Regions from separate parts of the Homo sapiens genome. Here region 1 is linked to region 2. Evidence: fine-mapped expression QTL. A gene starts in region 2. The other region holds a variant in brackets. All regions are shown on one strand. Distances are from middle to middle.

Evidence for each region. PIP is the estimated chance that this variant, and not a neighbour inherited with it, causes the effect.
Region 1: its variant is fine-mapped to the expression of AJAP1 in whole blood (TOPMed, PIP above 0.99).

The regions. Positions count from the first base shown.
Region 1 is chr1:4,705,675-4,715,451 of GRCh38, forward strand. It overlaps AJAP1 (adherens junctions associated protein 1), which reads left to right. Exons shown (of 6, transcript NM_018836.4): 2 at 6,226-7,025. Among named protein-coding and RNA genes, the nearest start is that of AJAP1, 56 kb to the left of the region's middle. RefSeq lists a silencer at 279-473 and enhancers at 3,335-4,247, 4,698-5,316, 5,317-5,933. The variant ACACT/A (reference allele first, on the strand shown) is at 4,789.
Region 2 is chr1:4,650,577-4,660,353 of GRCh38, forward strand. AJAP1 (adherens junctions associated protein 1) reads left to right here and starts at 4,033. Exons shown (of 6, transcript NM_018836.4): 1 at 4,033-4,878. The coding sequence starts at 4,850. RefSeq lists an enhancer at 2,024-2,073.

The sequences.
Region 1 (9,777 bases), 55 kb after region 2:
GGGACACACTTCAGACCAATCAATCAATGAAGAGGAGCATTCTATGCAATCCCTGACCAGTCCTCCTTAGAACATCAAGGTCATCAGCCACAGAGAAAGCCTGAGAAACCATCACAGCCAAGAGGAGCCAAACGAGACACAACCATTTGATGCCACGTGGTATTCTGGATGGGTTCCTGGGACTGAAAACGGACGCTAAGCTAAGTGCAAACTGGAGAAGTCCAAGCCACGTGTGTAGTTCCTGGTTATGCACCATGACGCTGTGGCATGGTGACCTACGGTATCCCTTGAGGGGAAACTGGAGATGAGTTCCCAGCAACTCTCTGGGCTCTTTTGGAATTTTTTGGAATGTCTTAAACTATTCTAAAATAAAAAGCTTTTTTGAAGCAAACCAATAGAAGTAGGGTGGAAGTCAGGAAGCATCTGGACACGGGTCATTGGGGACCGAGGGGTAGACCCTGGGTCCTCGGGGAAGGGAGGTCCACTTCCTGGGTGGGGCCTTCCACAAAAGAGCATGGACTCACAAAAAGCCAACGGCACTGCTGTGTCATAGAACAAATATGTCTGTGTCTATTCTTTCTGCTTCCTGGAGATTGTTTCTAGCGGTGCCCTGTGAACTATTGATCGTAGAAGCACGGGTCTTCTTCAACGAGGAGGCGGAGACCTCAGAGCCCACCTGCCCCAACTTACTGGTATGAATGACAGAAAAACTGGGGCTTGCAGAGTGGGAAGCTACAAGCCCATGCCAAGCTAACTTCCCCATCAAATGCAGCATCCTTCTCCTGGGCCCCAGAGCCAGTAAACGACAGGACCTGGAGGAGTCACGGGAAGTGGGTGTCTTCGTGGAACGGCTGGGGTGGATTGGCCACAGGCACAGCTCCAAGGTCCTGTCCCACCCTGAAGATTCTGGGCTGTTCCCCGGTGGAACAATTCCAGGGCCTGGCCTGCTTCTCACTGCACCAGTGCTCCCACAAGGCAGACACCAGCTGCTCCCAGGAGGCTCACGCCGCACACTCCCGGCTCGGGGAAAGGTGCAACTTTAAGTGGAAGAGATGTCTTTGGCCCCTTAATTGACAGTGATTTTCTTCTGTGAAGAAAATATACAGAAGGTAGTGAATTGAATCTCAATTCACCAAATCTTATTAAACTGTTCTTCGGGAAAAAAGATTTCAATAAAAATTTAAAAGGAAGAGAAGCAAGAAAGCCACAAACTAGAAAATAAAGTGAGACGGAGCAGTTGTTCCCCATTTGGAAGCAGCTGGGGAGCAGGGGGTGGTGGCAAGGAGTTTATTCTTTCTTTGAAAATCATGGGCTCGAGGCTGCTGAGAGGGAGCTGTCCCTGCCTCTTCTCAAAGGGTGTGGATGTGGTCCTCAGGTGCTCAGGCAGGGACCCTGTCTCACGTTCAGGGTGTCCCAGTGAGGACTGGGTGGATGAACCCAAAGTCTCCATGGCTTCCTCCTGCCCATGTGCCTGCAGCTCTGGGGGCCGCTCTGCCTTCCACCCATCCGCCAGGGCCAGGATTAGGGTGCCACGCCATGCACTCCACATTGTCCCCACAACCCTTGCACACACCCCATTCTCTAGCATGTTCCTTTTGATTTGTATTGGGATATACATTGCACAAAACTCACCTATTACAAATGTACAGTTTAGTGGGTTTTGTATAGGCATAGAGTTGTGCAGCTACCCCCACACACAATTCCAGAATATTTCGTCACCCCATAAAGAAACCCCCTACCCCATTACCCCTTCCCCAAGCCTTGGGCAATTGCTCATCTTTCTGTCTCTGTGGATTTGGTCACTCTGTGCATTTCCTATAAACGGAACCGGGCACCGTGTAGCCTTGAGTGCCTGGCTTCTTTCCCTGCTCAGGGTTTTCAAGGTGCTTCCACATTGTAGCATAGATCAAGTAATCCTGCCTTCCTTTTAAAGGCTGAACGATACTCCATTGTAACATTATGCCAGATCCCCTTTATCCATTCCTCAGCTGACGGGCACGTGAGCTGAGTCAGCTTTGACTGTTGTGAGTTGTGAGTGTGGCCCTGGGCCTCCCAGTGCAGGTTTTCATGTGGACAGATGTCTGTGCCTAAGAGAGGGGCAGCAGGGTCCCTGGAACTCTGTCTTTAGGGTTCCAAGGAATTGCCAAACTGTTTTGCCCAGAGGCATTCTGGTTTTCATTCCCACCAACAGCATACTAGGTCTCTCATCTCCTCGTGTCCTCGCCAGCACTTCATGTTCTCTGTCTTTCTGCTTGTAGCTCTCTCTGTGGGTGTGATGTGGGCGGTACGTTTTTTTTTTGTTTTTTTTTTTTGAGACGCAGTCTCACTCCATCTCCAGCCTGGAGTGCAGTGGCATGATCTCGGCTCACTGCAACCTCCGCCTCCTGGGTTCAAGCGATTCTCCTGCCTCAGCCTCCCGAGTAGCTGGGACTACAGGTGTACGCCACCACACCTGGCTAATTTTTGTATTTTTAGTAGAGACAGGGTTTCACCATGTTGTGCAGGATGGTCTCGATCCCTTGACCTCGTGATCCTCCCACCTCGGCCTCCCAAAGTGCTGGGATTACAGGCGTGAGCCACCATGTCTGGCCGGGCGGTATGTTCTTAAGGGGCCTGTGGATGCTTGAGTTTCAGGGGAGCTGGTGCCACTTCTGCCTGCCCCACAGCCTCGCCTCCTGATGGTTGGTGCTGTGGTCGGCAGCCATGCCACAGGGCCTGCCTCCAGAGGAGGTGTGGGGTCGCCTGCCATCTTGGTGCATGTCTGACAGTGCCATGGATGCCCTATGGGGTGAGGCCCTCCCGAAATCTGTTCATCATGAAATGAGAGGTGCTCAGGGCCAAGCCCCAGGCTGAGCAGGATCAGTGAGAAGAGTATTCCCAGGCTCTGCCTCATCTCAGAGCCGCCCAAGGGATGAGGACAGAGATTGTTTGTACTGCTCACTGGTCCTTGGAGATAGAGCCAAGTCCTCCTGCTGCAGAGATGCAGCCTCTCACCAAGGGGTCCCCAAGAGTCTCAGGACCAGGTCCGGGCAGCACACCAAGCTCAGCCGTCTTGGTGGCAATGCAGAGCCTGGGGCCCTTGGCCTTGCACAGAAATGAGCAGTGGCCCCTACACGTCTTCCTATGGGAGGGGCTTTCCCCCTGCCCCCCACATTTCTTGGCTGCTGGGAGTGGGCTGGGGCCTCTGTCCTGGTTGCCCACCTGCCCTCTTTTTTTTCCTCTCTGAACAAATCAATCACTTTAAAAAGGAAGAAACCAGACTTGAAGAGGAAAAACAAATCGACCTCTCCCTGCCACTGTTGCAATTGGTTGGTTTTTCTGCATAACAGCTGGGTGTCTTAGAAATGAGGGGGTTTCTATAGTAACCAATTACAGCCATGATTGGTGAAAAATCACAGAAATATCCTGTGTGTGAAGTTATGCCAGCGAGGCAGGCACGGGCTTAGGTGCTATGGTTTTAATTTCCTGGGGCAATATTTCTCTAAGTACTGATGGCAGGCAGGTTTGCTTGTCATGGCTTTTGATTCAGCCTGCCTGGTGGGGGCTGGTGGGGGCTGGTGGGGCCTGGTGGGGGCCGGTGGGGCCTGATGGGGGCCGGTGGGGCCTGGTGGAGTGTAGTGGGGCCTGGTGAAGCCTGGTGGGGTCTAATCAGGGCCTGGTGGAGTATAGTGGGGACTGTTGGAGTCTGGTGCAGTCTGGTAAGGCCTGGTGAGCTTGGTGGAGTGTGGTGGGGCCTGGTGAGGCCTGGTGAGGTCTGGTGAGGCCTGGAAGACCATGGCAGAGTCTGGTGAGGCCTGGTGGAGCCTGAAGGGGCTTGGTGGGGCCTGGTGAGACCCTGCACCTGCTCAGAGCAGCATCTCATCTTCCTGGGGCTAGACTCCCACCCAGCTCTGCAGGTCATGGGAGAATTAGAGATTCTAAACCAGCTCCCATCCTCACTGGGTCACCTGCAGCCACAGAGGAGCTACCTTAGTGTGTATATGGGGGAATTTCACCCTAACCTAAATTCGTCCTTGTGGTGACAGTGGCCCTGGTCCCTGCCCCGAGCTTGGCTGCTAGTGCAGAGAAATTGCACACCAGCAGAAACACCGTGCTGAGGATTAGCATAATGTGGAGGTCCTCATTTCTGCAGCAAAGCACTTCTATTCTGATTGAAAAACTGAAGCCTTATTGTTTGGGGATTAGTCCTTTTTGGTAATTAGCACTCATTAGCAAGAGTTTCTCTCTCACCATCCTGATGACTGGGGGGCCATCTGTTCCCCAGATATCTGGGAGAGTCAGCACCAGACACAAGGGTCTCAGTACTGAACAGAGGGCGTGCCCCCAGGGATGCGTTCACACACAGCTACAACTAAACTCTCCTACACAGACACACACAGACACACTCACACATAGAGTCTCTCACACAGACACTCACAGATACACTCGCATGCTCACACAGGGACACACAGATACAGTTGCACACACAAATACACACACAGATACTCTCACACAGACACACTCACACAGGAACGCACAGATACACTCATACACACTGACACACACGAGCATAGATGCACTCACACACTTCTATGCTGACACACATGGACACAGTCACACAACAGTACACTCTCACACACGCACCAAATACACACAGACACCCTGGCCCTCACTCACGCACAGTCTCTCACACTCGTGGACACACCCCCAGATGCATCTTTACACTCATGTATGCTGGCTCACTCTCACACTGGCACACTCACACAGCTTGACCCACACGCACACACTCACACCCAGTCACACACGTAC[ACACT/A]CACATACGTGTGCTTGCCTACACGCACACACTCACACACTTGCGTGCACGCATTACAATGACACACACAGCTTCCTTCCTTTGTGAAGTCACTCACCGCCTTATAAAGAAAAACTCTACCCAACCTGCTTTCCAGGCCTGGCTTTGGGCGGCGTCAGGCTGGCGCTTGGCACCTGAACACCCTCGCGCCCCCCACCCGCTTCAGTCATTACAGTTTTGGGATTCATTTTAACTTTCAGACGTGAGGCTGGTGACGAGAACTGACTTTGAATGACACCTATAATCAGTCTTCAATTATCTGTGCTGGTGGAAGAGGGAGCGTGGGCCTGGCTCCTCTGAGCCCTTCCACGTGGCTCTCTGCCGCGCCCTGGTTTTCATGTGACACCAGAGAGTCCACTGGTCCAGAGGCGACCCCAGACCTGGTGACAAAGCCGCTCCATGTGAACTGGGGAGGGGCCGCCCCGCCAGCCCTGACTTCTCCCCTGCAGCCCCGCTGCGTGGAGAGGCAGCCCCGCCCTCCTCAGGGTTGCGCAGGATTTGCCCTTTCTGCAGCCCTCCGGGGAGCTGAGGAGGTGGATAACAGGGTTTCAAAGGGCACCGGCACTGCAGATAAACAGGGGGAGCGGAAATGTCAACAGAACAGACACTTCGCGTCAATAAACTTTAGGTTTATCCGGAGCAGATCTCATTTCCCTGAGTACGATCCAGAGGAGGCCAGAAGTAAGAAGCCTTCCCATGCAGAGCATTTAAAGCGATGCCTGTTTACGATATGCATGCCGGGCTCTGGGTGAGGGGCAGCGGGAGCGGCTGGTGTTTGCAAAGTGCAAGTGCCTGGCAGGTGTAGGTGCTGGGAAGCGCCTGCGCTCACGCTGCGAGGTTTCAAGCTTGAAACCTCCGCTCCTCCTAGACCTGGGGAGAGGCGCTTCCCCAGTGGGCGGGGGGTGGCCTGGGCTATGTAGAGGAAAGCGCCTGGCCCTGGGGTCCCAGGTGGAGGCCGGTGTCCGCTGCTGCCATCCTCTCACTTACGTCCTCTCGTCGTGTGATGGGCAAAAGGAAGGAGGGACTCACAGGTCTTTTCAGGTTATCTTGTCGAGGCTGCCCTGAAAGGCTGGGGGTTTCTGAGGCTCGGTTTTCGCTCGCGTGAAATGGACTATTCGGCGACCGGCCGGCTCTGTGCCTGGCAGGCGCCTCAGCCCCGCGGTGCCGGGAAGCAGCTCCCCGCACCCTCGCAGCGCGCGCTGTTCTTGCACGTGAGTGAGCCTTTGAAGGAAAGGAAGGAAGGGTTTCGGATTCCCTTTTGAAGTTAGGAGGAGCTCTTTCCAGAAGAAGAGAGCGTCCTTGTCACAGCGCGGGGTGGAGAGAGAGGGCCCCGGGGCCCAGTCCCCCTCCTGGGCTTCCACTGACCGCTCTTCTCTCCTTTCCCCCCCGCACAGCTCCATGTCCATCCGCTGGCCGGGCCGCCCCCTCGGAAGCCATGCCTGGATACTGATAGCCATGTTTCAGCTCGCCGTGGACCTGCCCGCCTGTGAGGCCCTGGGCCCGGGGCCGGAGTTCTGGCTCCTGCCGCGGTCGCCGCCCCGGCCGCCCCGGCTGTGGAGTTTTAGGAGTGGACAGCCAGCGCGGGTCCCGGCCCCGGTGTGGAGCCCCCGGCCGCCCCGAGTGGAGCGGATCCACGGGCAGATGCAGATGCCTCGAGCCAGACGGGCCCACAGGCCCCGGGACCAGGCGGCCGCCCTCGTGCCCAAGGCAGGACTGGCCAAGCCCCCAGCTGCTGCCAAATCCAGCCCTTCCCTCGCCTCTTCGTCCTCGTCCTCGTCCTCCGCGGTGGCCGGTGGGGCCCCGGAGCAGCAGGCCCTCCTGAGGAGGGGCAAGAGGCACCTGCAGGGGGACGGTCTCAGCAGCTTCGACTCCAGAGGCAGCCGGCCCACCACAGAGACTGAGTTCATCGCCTGGGGGCCCACGGGGGACGAGGAGGCCCTGGAGTCCAACACATTTCCGGGCGTTTACGGCCCCACCACGGTCTCCATCCTACAAACACGGAAGACAACTGTGGCCGCCACCACCACCACCACCACCACGGCCACCCCCATGACGCTGCAGACTAAGGGGTTCACCGAGTCCTTGGATCCCCGGAGAAGGATCCCAGGTGGGGTTAGCACAACGGAGCCTTCCACCAGTCCCAGCAACAACGGGGAAGTCACCCAGCCCCCAAGGATTCTGGGGGAGGCCTCAGGTACAGCCATCTCTCTTCTGGTTTGGGTTTGCTTGGGGTTGAGGGCTGGGAGCGTGACTCGGGAGAGATGCTTAGATGTCCCTGGGTGATGCTATGTGTGGAGGCTCCAGGAGATGCAGGCGTGATGTGTCCATGAGCTTGCACATGCCTGTAGACTGGCAAATACAGGCTGTGCCTTAGAGGAAGGGGGCGTGAGAAGGGAGAGTTTCCCTTTTTAGTATGTACCTAGAAGTGGGCGCTGCACCCCTTGTGCCTCTGTTAGGGACCAGCTGAATCCACCAGGTGCTGCAGCCCTGTTACAGACCGGTGGAATCCACCACACACAGCCACGCCTTCCAGAATCAGAGAATTTTGTCTCTGGGGCCGGCCCTTGAGCAAGATGCTTGCCCGTCTCGTGATACAATTAAGGATCCCCCCGCCCCAGAGTCTTCAAAAGCCTTCAAGGGTATGGGACCCATGGACGGGGGCATGGACGGGGGCAGGGTGCCTGCCAACTTGACCTCGGTAGAGGATTAGGAATGGCCTTAAATAGCAAGAAAGGCCGAGGCTGGGTAAAAGGAAGAACTTCCTGCGGTGTTAACAGAACCTTCGCAGACAGTGATTCAGGTGGCACCTTTCGGCTCCCTGGGGATGTGTCAGGAGGGTGTTTGGAGGACGGAGATCAGAACAAAGGGCTTTGGTTCTTCTGCTGCTGTTATCCTAGCTGCCTGTGGACACACACAGTTCACTGGCTTTGGAATATCTCCTTCTGTGCAGTTTTGTTGTTTTTTATTTTCCTCCTATACGCTGTCCTCCATTTGCTTTGAAAGGAGTAGCCCTTGGAAATCTCCCAAGCCAGGGCTTGTCCCTGAACTGGTAGCCTGCACTGATGTCACCAGGCTTCACAGCAGGCCTGCGGGGAGAGCGCAGAGCCCTGGGCACCCCGTCACCCTCACCTCCCTCCAGTTTTCTCTGCCTCTGTTAACAGGCACAGCCCGATGTGCCAGGTTGGCTCAGAAGTTCACAACCTAGATCTGTGCATACACATTCTAGACAAACAGCAACATTTGCTAACTTTAAAATCGGATGCAGATTTTAGGGCGTCAGTACAAAGTGGGCGGGGGCGCCCTGTGGCCTCCTCACAGCTTGCTTTCCACAACCTCCAGCTTGTGGGCTCGGTAGGCCCCACCCAGGCCTCTGCAGAATCAAGGGGAGGGAAGAGAACTGCTCTTCAGAGCTCATGTGCAGGCGGCCGGCATGGCATCCAGGCCCTCTGCGTCCTCACTAGACTGCGTCCTGGCCCTGGTTCCTCCTCATCTTGGGCAGGCAGGCACCGGGCAGTCCTTGGACAGGTTTTCATGGGGTGGGTGGCTTTTGTCCTTCAGCCGGTGACCTACTTTCTTCCTTCACCTGGACAAGAGAACCTGCGGTTTTTTTTCTGAGCTCCTCTTCCCTAGAGAGCAATGTCTCTATGGAAGCACAGCCTGGGCTCCCTGCGCATGCTGAGGGCCATGCCCAGAGATGGAGGCTGTGGGCTTGGGAGAGGCTCTGGAGGAAGAGGCTCCGGAGGAAGAGACTCTGGAGGTCCTGCATCGGCTTCCTCCCATGCAGCCTCTTTTGGGAATCCACGGACATGCGGGGTCTGCAGCTCATCCTGCACTGTCAGGCGCCTGCTAGCAGTTTACAGAGTGTTCATTTTTACCTCAGTAAACTCAGCAGCCATCATCATAGTAGGATTTCTTGCTACTCTCCCTTACTGTCACCTCCTCTGTATACGTCACTTACTATATAGACATGGATGAGGAAACAAGTTCCCATTTATTCCAAATTACATTTGTTATTACTAAAGTTAAACACCCGGGACAGCGTTGTAGGCTTAGCAAATTAATTCACAGTGCATTGGATGTTGCTAATCCATCTCGACAGATGCTTATCTTGGAAGCGATTTATGGTTCTTCATAATATAATCTGGTGCTAGATTAATTTGTTTAGCAAAACAAATCTAAAAAGAGGAAAATATGTGTGTTTGTTTCTAATGCAGAGAAATGTTAATTCTGGAACGCAATGCTGGGCCACAGGGAAGGGAACAGGTGGTTTACAGCAGCGCTCATCAGGGCTAGGCCACCATCCTGAGCTTCCCAGCCAAGGCAAAGGGAAGAGAGGAAATGCGGGGATGATTCCCCTAACTGGGTTCCTCATAGCCCAGTGGGTACCATGTAAATGAATTAGACCAGAGCAGGAACAATTTAGGTTACACACTGGGAAGTACTTGCTGGTGATGCAGGAGGTGAGATCTTTGCTTAGGCTACTGAGAACAGGCTGCATAATCTCCTTATCTGAAGTCCCAAGTAGAGGGGGATGGGGCAGGGGGAGGAAAACAACTGTTTAAGCTTCCCCAGATGGAAGGAGTGCTGGGACAGAGGGCTGAACTCCCTGGAACCCCCTTGCTTGGCAGTCATCAGATGCAGACCTGCGCCCCCAACATTTGGTGGAACGTGAACACTACTCACACTTCTCAGACATCTAAGGCAGCAGAAGTGGTCTTGGGGACTCCAGAGCTGCAATCTGGGAGGCCATGAATTGCTGCAGTTAGTTAGCAGGTGCCTTGAGGCTGAAGATCTGGGAGAGAATCTGGGCTCTGTTGCATGTCACTGTGTGACCCTGGAAAAGGTCTCTCCTCTCCTGATTTTCTTTTCTTCACCAGCAAAATTGAGGCTTAGAAATAGGCCGTGTGCAGTGGCTCACGCCTATAATCCCGACATTGGGAGGCTGA
Region 2 (9,777 bases):
ACTTTCACAGGCAGTTCAGACCTGGCATTTTCTCTTGCCGGCCAGTGCTGGGCTGCAGGATGATTGTCTTGTGAGTCATTTTGTGGGTGGGAGTACAGCTTCTTGGCTCCCACCTCTGCCCCAAGGCTTGGTCTCTGCCTTGCGCTCAGCTATGCGTGTAGTGCAGCTGTGTGCAGCCTCACCCAGGAAACAGCTCAGGTGCCAGGGGGAGGAAACCCCAAATCTCCAGCATATAACCTCCCTGAGAAGGAAAAGCGACTTTGCGTCACTCCCCCTGCCCCCGACAACCATGAGCTTCCTGCAAGTTTTACTGGGAGGGGGGTAGCCAGGAAGATAGGAGAGTCAGGGAAGACACTCCTGTGAATGCTTTCAAGAAACTTATAATAATTTTAATCAGCATTTTCCCTTCCATTTAAAATCACAAACTTAGCTACTTAATCAAATGTCATGGTTAAGACACATTTACCTCCTTGGGAGAAAAATGAACAATGGCAGCTCAATTTGGCTTTGGATGGGTTTTAAAAATAGTCAAGTCTGTGAAGGCCATTAGATAAATGGCCTCAGAGAGCTTCAAAGAGGACCTCCTGCAGGGGCCTGCTGGCTCCTTTGTTGGGAAAATAGGGGAGGGGACTAGGTGAGGAGACCGCAGGGGTTCCCCAGGGTTCCAGGCTGTGGACTTCCCCCAGCGGGGAGAAAGGGCCAGAATTAGCAGGGTGACCGGAAGAACTTTCCACAGCATGAACATCTGAACAGTTCCCTTTTGTATCGCCGAAGCTGGGAGGCGTGTGTGTGTGTGTGTGCGCGCGCACACGCGTGTGTGTGTGTGTGTTGGGTGGGAGTGACATACACACAGCTTCCCAATCCCCAAGGGAAGAAAAATGAACCAGTTAGAAATATGAGAGCCATCAATGTATAGAAAACCAGTTCTAGAAATGCTGAAATGCAAGTTAAGGTTTTGTCGTTTTACAGTCTGTAAAAAAAAAAAAAGACAATGATTTTGTCATCGAAATAATAATAATAAGCTGGGCGCGGTGGTTCAGGCCTACAATCCCAGCACTTTGGGAGGCCAAGGTGGGTGGATAACCTGAGGTCAGGAGTTCGAGACCAGCCTGACCAACATGGTGAAACCTTGTCTCTATTAAAAATACAAAAATTAGCCGGGCGTGGTGGTGCACACCTGTAATCCCAGGTACTCGGGAGGCTGAGACAGGAGGCTGAGACAGGAGAACCTGGGAGGCAGAGGTTGCAGTGAGCTGAGATCATGCCATTGCACTCCAGCCCAGGTGACAGAGTGAGACTCCATCTCAATAATAATAATAATAATAATAATAATAATAATAATAGGTGGATTGCTCTTTTTGGAGAGAGGCAGACCTGAGTTACCCTAGAGAAAAAGGAAATCAGTGTACCCTGGTCCCAAATCCTAATTTTAAGCCTGGGTGAGGGCAGAGGGCATCCTCCGTCCCCATAGACTGAAGAAGCCCTCACTCACCCGGGGCAGCAGCTGTAGTCTTAAGGCTCTGACTTCGCCTGGAGACTTCTGCAGGGCTTGTTCCCATCTCGGTTGTCAGAAAACACTTCCTTCTACTATTTTCTTTGTCCAGAGATTCCCAGGGTACTTGGATAGAATTCAAAGGGTCTTTCAACTCGTATGGGGGAAAACTGGCATCTTTATTTAACCCTAACTGAGACTTGGCATTTCCTTTCATTATCAATGTCGGTGGCAGAGCTCAGTGCCTGTGACCGTCAAACATAGAAAGCACTGGCATTTCCATATCACACTGCCATGGCTGCAGTTACCTCAGGATATTATTGCTGCATATCTGGACTTCAAAAGGAACGTAATTTAGGATCTGTCAATTGCTTACTAAGTGTATTAATAAATAATATATACGGCTATATCAGAAATTTGTTTTTATTACTCTTTTGATAATGCATTTGCATAGAATTGGTTTCCTAATAATCCTGGGCTTTTTCATCTATGCACTTAGAAGCCATTCTGAGAGAGGTCAGCAGGTGTCCACAAGGCTGCCCAAGGGGTTCCTGGAGCCGACACGGTCCGGTCCGGAGCCCCTCCCTGCCCTGCTGGCTCCTAGTGTGCGAAGCCGGCCCCTTCCAGGCCCACTCCGGTTGCAGGAAGGGCCTCCCTGGTGCAGCACCGCCTCCTCACACCGCTAGGTGGCAGCACTGCCGGCGCCTCCTTCCCCGCCGGCCGCCATAGGCCCCGCTGGTTCCAGGACCTCCCTGCCTCCTTCGCCTCTTAATGGGATCCGCTCCCTCACACCCCTCAGGGAGAGGCTCTAGGGGACGATGACCCAGGGGCGGCCCGGCAGGGAAACTGCTGAGTCACCCTGCTGCCTCTCGGGTCCTCTGACCGGCTCACAGATCACCATAGCCACAGTGTGTGTAAGGCCTTCTCATGGAGCCCTGCAAACACCTCCCCGGGGAGGGGCTGTGGGACCCATCTTACAGATGAGGAGACCGAGGGTCGGAGAGGCCACACAACTCGGCCAGGACCCCGAGTTAGCAAGCGCTGGCCCCTGGTCCAGCCACGGCAAGGCTGGCCCTCCTGCCACCACACTTCCCTGCCTCTGGCCCTCTGCCGGGAGTCTTGGTGGGGAAGTCACTGTCTTCATCCTCCTGCCCGGGCAGAGTCCAATCCTGTGCCTGGCTCCTCAAGACCGTTGGCAAAGATCCTGGAGGCCTGGGGGTGAAAGGGCTGCTTGGGGGACTTAAGCCCCAAGCTATGGTTCGCCTGGGAGACTGAGCCCCAAGCCATGGTCCTCCTGGCTCTGCCCTTCCACCCCCTCACTGGCTGCCCCTCCCAGGGAGGCCTCACCTGTGAAGTGCTTCCCGCCCCTCTCACCCCCCACGGCTCTCACATGGCCTGGGGCGATTCCAGAGCTGGCCTGGGTCAAGCACCTGCACAGAGCACAGAGCGAAGGCTCGGCATGGTATATCCCCCGCCCCTTGCACCTTTCCCCAGTGAAGGGTGGCACCAGTGTCCTTTCCAAGGCCCGGATTCTGCACTGCCCTCAGCCTGTGGAGGATTAAAAGCAGGGTTTTGCCGTGGTTTCTCAAGGCGTCAGCGGGTCTGCAGAGGATTCCGCCCCATGTCACTTCTCTCAGTGAAAGGTCCCCGCCCAGCGTCTGTCCTCCTTTAAGTGCCCCCCATTTGTTTTTTGTTGTTGTTTTTGTTTGTTTTTTGCAAATACAGACTAACCAGGTAGGCACAGAGGAGTCCTGGCATGGGAAGGGAGCAGTGAAACGCCGGTGGAGAGTCCGGGAGGCCCAGATTCCCTGGAACTTTCCAGTGACTCCTCCGGAGCAAGGGCCTGGCCAGGCAGCAGCTGCGCTGGGCGATGAGGGACCGTTGGGTAATTGGGGGCATAGGACCGGGCTTCGCTGGGTTCGGGGCAGAAGCGCCGAAGCTCCGACCCGGAACGCGGTGACTTCATCAACGCAGAAGCCCGCGCAGCCGAGCAGAGGAGTCCCTCGTAGGCGACCCTCGGACAGACGCTCCTGCGCGGCCCGCGTGGCTCAGCTCCGCCCCAGGAAACTTTTCGCGCAGCCCCCGCTCCATGCGCCCCCACCCAGTCCTTCTTCGGGGCCGCCCCCTCCCCAAAGTAGCTCTCCGGGTCCACTGGGCGCCCCCGTAACCGGGTCGGAACCTCGAACGGCTTCGCGTGCCATCCGGTTACCCTGGCAACACCATCCGGCGGCGCCCGGCGGTCCAATCCTAGCCTGCGGCCTCTCTCGAGCCTTTCGCAAGGTGGGGACCGGGACGCGACCGGGGATGGGGAAGGGGGCTGCAGGAGGCCCCGCCTGCGCTGTCGCCCCTGCTGGGCACAGCGCCCCCCACCACCCGCGGCGACCCCGGCCCCCGCAAGGTGGGGCGGCGAGCAGGAGCCGGGGCCAGGCCAGGGGCTCGAGCTCCCGTTCGAGGGGCGGGGAAGGCGGGTGACGTGAGCCGGGCCGGGCGGGCGGAGTTGGGACCGGCTCCGGGAGGCGGGGGCGAGCGCGCGGAGAGGCAGACGCGAGGAGGGAGGCGGCTGAGCAGCGCGGGCGGCTCTGCGGCGGGCGCGGTGGGCGCGGGCGGCGGGGCCCCGGGATCCCCGCGCGCCTCCTCCGCGCGGCGCCGCCGCCGCGCGTCCCCACGCCCCGCGCTCCACGGCGCCCTCGCCCCGCGCGCCTCTCGTGCCCGCCTCCTGCCAGTCTCCGGGCCGCGGCCGTCTGCAGAGCGAGCGCTCAGACGGAGCCCCCGGGCAACTTGAGTGGCGCCGATCGGCGGCGGAGCCTCTGGCAGAGCCCCCCGACCCGGCAGCGCGGAGGGGACTCGCGTCCGTCCGCGTCGCGTCACCCCAAACCCTAAGCAGCGCCGCCCCATCGGCGCGGAGCTCCGGCTGGAGGCAAGAGCCGCGCGCCGGGAGACACGCACCGTGAGCGGCAGCGCCGCCGGCCTCCCTCCTCGCCGCCCCGGAGGGCGAAGCCGCGGCTCCCCAGCCCTTTGCTGCGCCGCGACAGCGCCGGAACACGCCCCGCCTCGCTGCCGCCTTCGCTGTGCCGCCGGCGGAGGGGGCCGCGAGCCCCGCGCCCCGGCCGGAGGATGTGCGCCCCCGCGGGCCGCCCAGCCTGAGCCATGCGCCCCAACGGCGGCGGCGCGCCGGCCGGCATGGAGCCCCGCGCGGCCGCGCTCTGACTCGCTGTGCGCCCCGCGGCCGGCGGGCGGCGGGAGGCGGCGGACCGAGAGCCGGAGACCGGCGCCGCGGGACGGAAGCGAGCGGGCGCGGGCGCCGCGCAGATGGCCTGGGCGAGCCAGGTCTGAGGCCCCGCTCCCCGAAACGTGACCATGTGGATTCAACAGCTTTTAGGACTCAGGTGAGCGACCCGGCCGGCGCCGGGTGCGTGTGGGCGCGTGGGTGCCAGGCTGGGCGGAAGCGGCGCTTTCCTCTATGTTGCAAATCAAGGGACCCCTCTTCGCTTCCCGCAAGCGGGCAACGGGGTGCACCGGTAGCCGGAAAGGGGCGCCCGCCCGGAGCCTGGAGCAGCACCGCGGCCCTGGCGGGGAGCGGCCGGGTCTCCAGGGTTCCGCGCGTCCGGGGTCGGGGCAGCGGCGCCCGCCCCAGCAACCCGGGAAGTGGGGCCGGCCAGGCGCGCCCGCAGCTCTAGGAGCCAGCAGCGCAGTGTCCTGGCCGGCTGCCCCGGCGCGCCTCCTCCCCGGGGCCCGGGGCGAGGCGCCGGCCGCTGGGCGCGGCGGGCGCGGGGGCCGGGGCTGCCGGGGAAAGCTAAAGCTCCGGGCTCCCAGCGAGAGCTTCGCAGGCGGAGTTGGAGGAAACCACAGCCAAACAGCCACTCCGCTCCCCCTTCTCCTTTCTCGGGGCCCCGGGGCTGAGCAGGGGCCTCCCAGGCTCCCAGCTGCCGACCCAGCTGTTTGCGGGTGACCTCCGGGCCCGACGGGCGCTCACAGCTGGCGGGCAGCTGGGGCGGGAGAGCTGGGGTTCTTGGGGAGCTCCGGCGGCCACCCCGCTGTAAACACACACGCACATACGCCCGCCGGCGCGCCCGGGGCTTGTCTGTGTCTGGGACTCCAGGGCCAGATGGAAGAGGGGGTTCGAGCCTAGAGCCCGTGGTGGGGGTGTCCAGAAAGACCCTTCTCGGCAAACTTTGCCAGCCCGCCGGGGTTCTCGGGCTTCTCTGGCTTCTGCCTGGGGTGGCCCAGGGCCCACCAGAGCACAGCTGTCGTTTTTGCTGGGCAGGCTGCCTCTGAGCCCTCGCCCTCCTGCCGGGGCATTCACCGAGCTCGTGCATTTGGGTCCCGGGTTGGAACCGCGAGCGGGGAGGACAGAGGTGGAGGCGGAGAGCAGCGTGCGGTTCTCGAGTTTGTCCACTGGGATGCACTGCGCTCCCGCGTTGGGGACGAAAAGGCCAGTAGTTGTTAGCCCGCTGCTTGAGCCGCCCCCACTCAGGGATGAAGCTGCGGGGGGAGTGAGGCGAAGGGAGGGAGGATCTAGTGCGTGTCCTGATTTTGAGAAATCGGAAGGGGACTGGGACGCCAAGTGTTTTCTAGCGACCCTTGATTTATGAGCCGATTCTGCTCCCAGAGGTGAATACTGTGTAACACATCTAGTGAACATTGTCAGATGTTATTATTAGCATCCCTTCTCTCAGTGGCCGATCTTGCTGTGGGCTTCAAAGGTTAATCATGGAGCCGATTGTGTTGGGTGTGGGATATTGGTCGGGCGTGAATCGATAAGTGTGCTTGGGCTAGATAAGGTTTAGGCTTGGACCGTTGTGGGATGTTGGCAAAATGGAGCGAGGACAGCTTTGCAGGAATGACCCTGATCCAGGTGCCCTGGAGGCCTGCCATCCCCTGCTCTGCCCCGGACTGTCCCAGGTCTCAGCAAGACCTTCCAAGGCTTTGTGAATGACCAGACGGGTCCCCACACTGGCCAGTGGCTGGTCTTCAGCTCCGACCTGCTTCCTGAGCTGCCACTTGATTCCTGATGGCAACTTATTTGAACAGACATTTTTTTTTATTGCTAAGTTGCTAGATTAAAAGATGAGTACATTTTGATAAAGGGAGAGAAGAGCAAATATCTTGGAAAGAAGCCTCTCTTTTGATTTGAAATTTACTAAAACAGTTCCTCTCAAGCATCCTCAAGCCGGATCTTGGGATTTTGCTTTAGGAAATAGTTCTGTTGGTTCTTTTGAAGTTTGACCTTTCGTTTTTCCCCCCTCGATGTCAGCACAGGAGATTTTCTGTAAGTGTGCCTTTAAGGACGAGCTGTCACCTATTTGGGATCCTGATGGGAGAGCTCTGTCTTGTTACTGCTGTCTCCTGGCCAGAGAAGGAGGCCTGTACCCAGAGGGTCTGGGTGGTTTTGCATCACAATGGGCACCTGGGGACTCTGAGCCAAAGGGTTGCAAGTTCAAGGTCTGGAAATGCACTTTTTCTTTCAAGACAGCCCTTCACCTTTGCTTGCAAGCCACTCCGCGGCTCCCTAGGTGAGCACTGGGCGTCTTGCTGCCAAGCTTGGAGCCTGGTTAGGACAGGTAGACACTGAGCCTCCAGCTGGGGTGGCAGAAGGCCTGGCTTGCTCCACCATGGGAGAGGTGCAGTGTAACTTGCTGGGCAGGGGGTGGGGGTGGGGGTGGGGTGGGCTTTCTTAGTTCCGGCCCCAGAGACGAAGTCTGGGCTTGGTTATTTACGTCTGTGTTGGAACTGAGCTGTATGTGGAGCTTTTTTTTTTTCTTTTCCCCCCAAGAGGGAGAAGCAGATTGAGACTTATTGAGCAGCTTTTGTGTCTTTTGCGGTGGCATTTAATAGTTGTAGCAGAGCTCCAAAGATACTTTCCATCAGCTGAGAGAGAGGGAGCCACGGAAGGAGACCCAGTGGCTTGACAAGCCCTGCCAGAGCTCACCCGTGGAGGAGGCGCGTATTCAGCAAGCAGCTCAGAGCTCACCCGTGGAGGGGGCGCGTACTCAGCAAGCAGCCCAGAGTTTGGAATTGGCTTCCTGGTTGTGAGTTGCTTCCCAGGCTGCAGACCTCAGATGCTGTGGCTTCCTCAGGGGCTCCGAGCGTCCACCTAATACGTTTGCTGGGTTGCGCTCAGGACTGTGATCCCTAGCAGAGTGCCACGAGCTCATTCCCAGCCCATGTCCCTGCGGCCATCCCATCTGTTCTCCCGCTCCAAGGTTCTGGGGCCCCTTTTGTTTGGGAGGCCCTGGGTGTGTGTGTTGACATAATTCACAGTTCCCCAAGCCCTCTCAGTGCGCGCTGTACCATGTCTGGGCCTCATGGCAGGGATCCATTGGCTTGGCTGTCACCATCCTCGCTGTAGAGTCCCCAGGCAGCTGGGGCTGTGCAGCCCAGCTTTAGCGGATGAAGTCAAACGCGCAGTCCACAAACATTGCGCTCCGGGTGAATCCTGGCTCGCGCCGATTTCCAGCTGCTGCTACTAAATTGATTGCAACTGGAATCTATCTAGTGTCAGCGGCTGTGCTACTCCTCGGGGACAATCATGCTTGACTAAACTGCAAATTTAGGAGGCAGCTCAAATCTTTGGGCAACATCGGTACATACCCCCCTTTCATGCTCACCCCCACCTTGGGGATACACTGGCCAAGTGGAGGAGCTGATGGCAGACTCCTCCCAGTGTGTCCCTGTTGTTTATTTACTTTGATCACCTGCTTCCTTTTCTTCCATGCATTGGAGAGGGGAGCAGGGCAACGCAGCTCAGGAATGGAGACAGCCCCACGCCTGCCGGGGACAGCTGTCTCTGGGTCCCTGGAGGCAGAGCAGCGCCGGCTTCTCCAAGGCATGCACCTGCGTCTTTCTAGCGGGGGTCGCTGGAGGTGCTTCTGGACCCCAACCCAGTCTCCACTTCCACAGCGCCAGTCCCTCTGACCCACACACAAATGGGGTGTTTGGCAGGTGGGGCCCTGTGTGCTCCTGGGTTCTGCATTTCCCTGAGCTTTTTGTGGGAAAGCCACAGGGTACCTGGAGTGTGACCCTGGGTTACAATGAAGTAGGTAAACACAAAACCCTGACTGGATTGCAAACAGCTGAGCCTTCAAGAGCCCAGGGGCTCCTCTCAGGGGTTATATAAGAGTCATCTGTTTTAAATACGTAGTTGCCAAGTTTTCTTCAAAGGGTTACAAGTCAGTAGAGACCAAATTGATGTAAAGATTAGCTTGGAAAGCCAAATATATCCTTGATCTAGATTTTACATTTGAAGTCTGGCTTGAGAGGGTTTCTCCTGCCTGATGCCAATCAGACACAAGGAGGAGACAGGAGCAGGGGCTTTCTGGGGCTAGAGCAGGCAAACGTGGTACAGTCGACTCCATTCTTTCTTCCTCTGAGACCCCTTCCAGGAATTCAAAGGGGCTGGTGAGTCATGAGGCCTCGGAGCAGGGAGTGGTGGTGGTTACATAATTCAGATTAACTCTCAGTTAATCTGCCTTGAATAGAGAGTCAGGCTGGAGGGTGTCCATGTCAGACCTCTGGTGGCCCTTGGGCGTGTCCCCAAGTACATCCGCCTCAGAGCTGGGATAAGATCAGGCACCAGGAGGAGAGAGGAGGACTGGCTACTCCTGGGTCAATCCCAAAAGGTTACTTACTATATGATGATTTCATAGCATTGAAATTGAGGTAGGAGATGGGACTTGACTCTGGAGGTGGGACTCAGACTGTGGACCAAATTGAGGACTAGCTAAAACAGGGACAGGATGGAAGCACCATTCCATAAGACATGCCCGTCAATGTGCCATGTCAGTTTACCATTGCCAGGGCAACACCCAGTAGTTACTGCCCTTTCCATGGCGATGACCTGATGACCCAAAAATCACTACCCCTTCCCTAGAAATTTCTGCATAAACCGCCCCTTAATCTCCGTGGAATTAAAAGTAGGTATAAATACAACTGCAAAGCTGCCCCGAGCTGCTACTCTCAGCACGCTGCCTATGGGGCAGCCCTGTTCTGCAGCGGCAGACACGGAGCTGTCACACTGCCGGACCGGTAACACCACCACACCACCAGAGCTGGAACACCTCCTCAATAAAGCTGTTTTTCTTCTACCACTGGCTTGCCCTTGAATTCTTTTCTGGGCAAAGCCGAGAACCCTCATGGTCTAAGCCTCACTTTGGGGCATGCCGGCCCTGCATCAAAATGACAAAATTATAGACGTGGTACAATACTCATACTACTACTGCTACAGATGAGTAGTTGCCAGGGGTCAAAGAAGGAGTGGGGAACGGAAGGAAAGAGGGTGTGGTTAC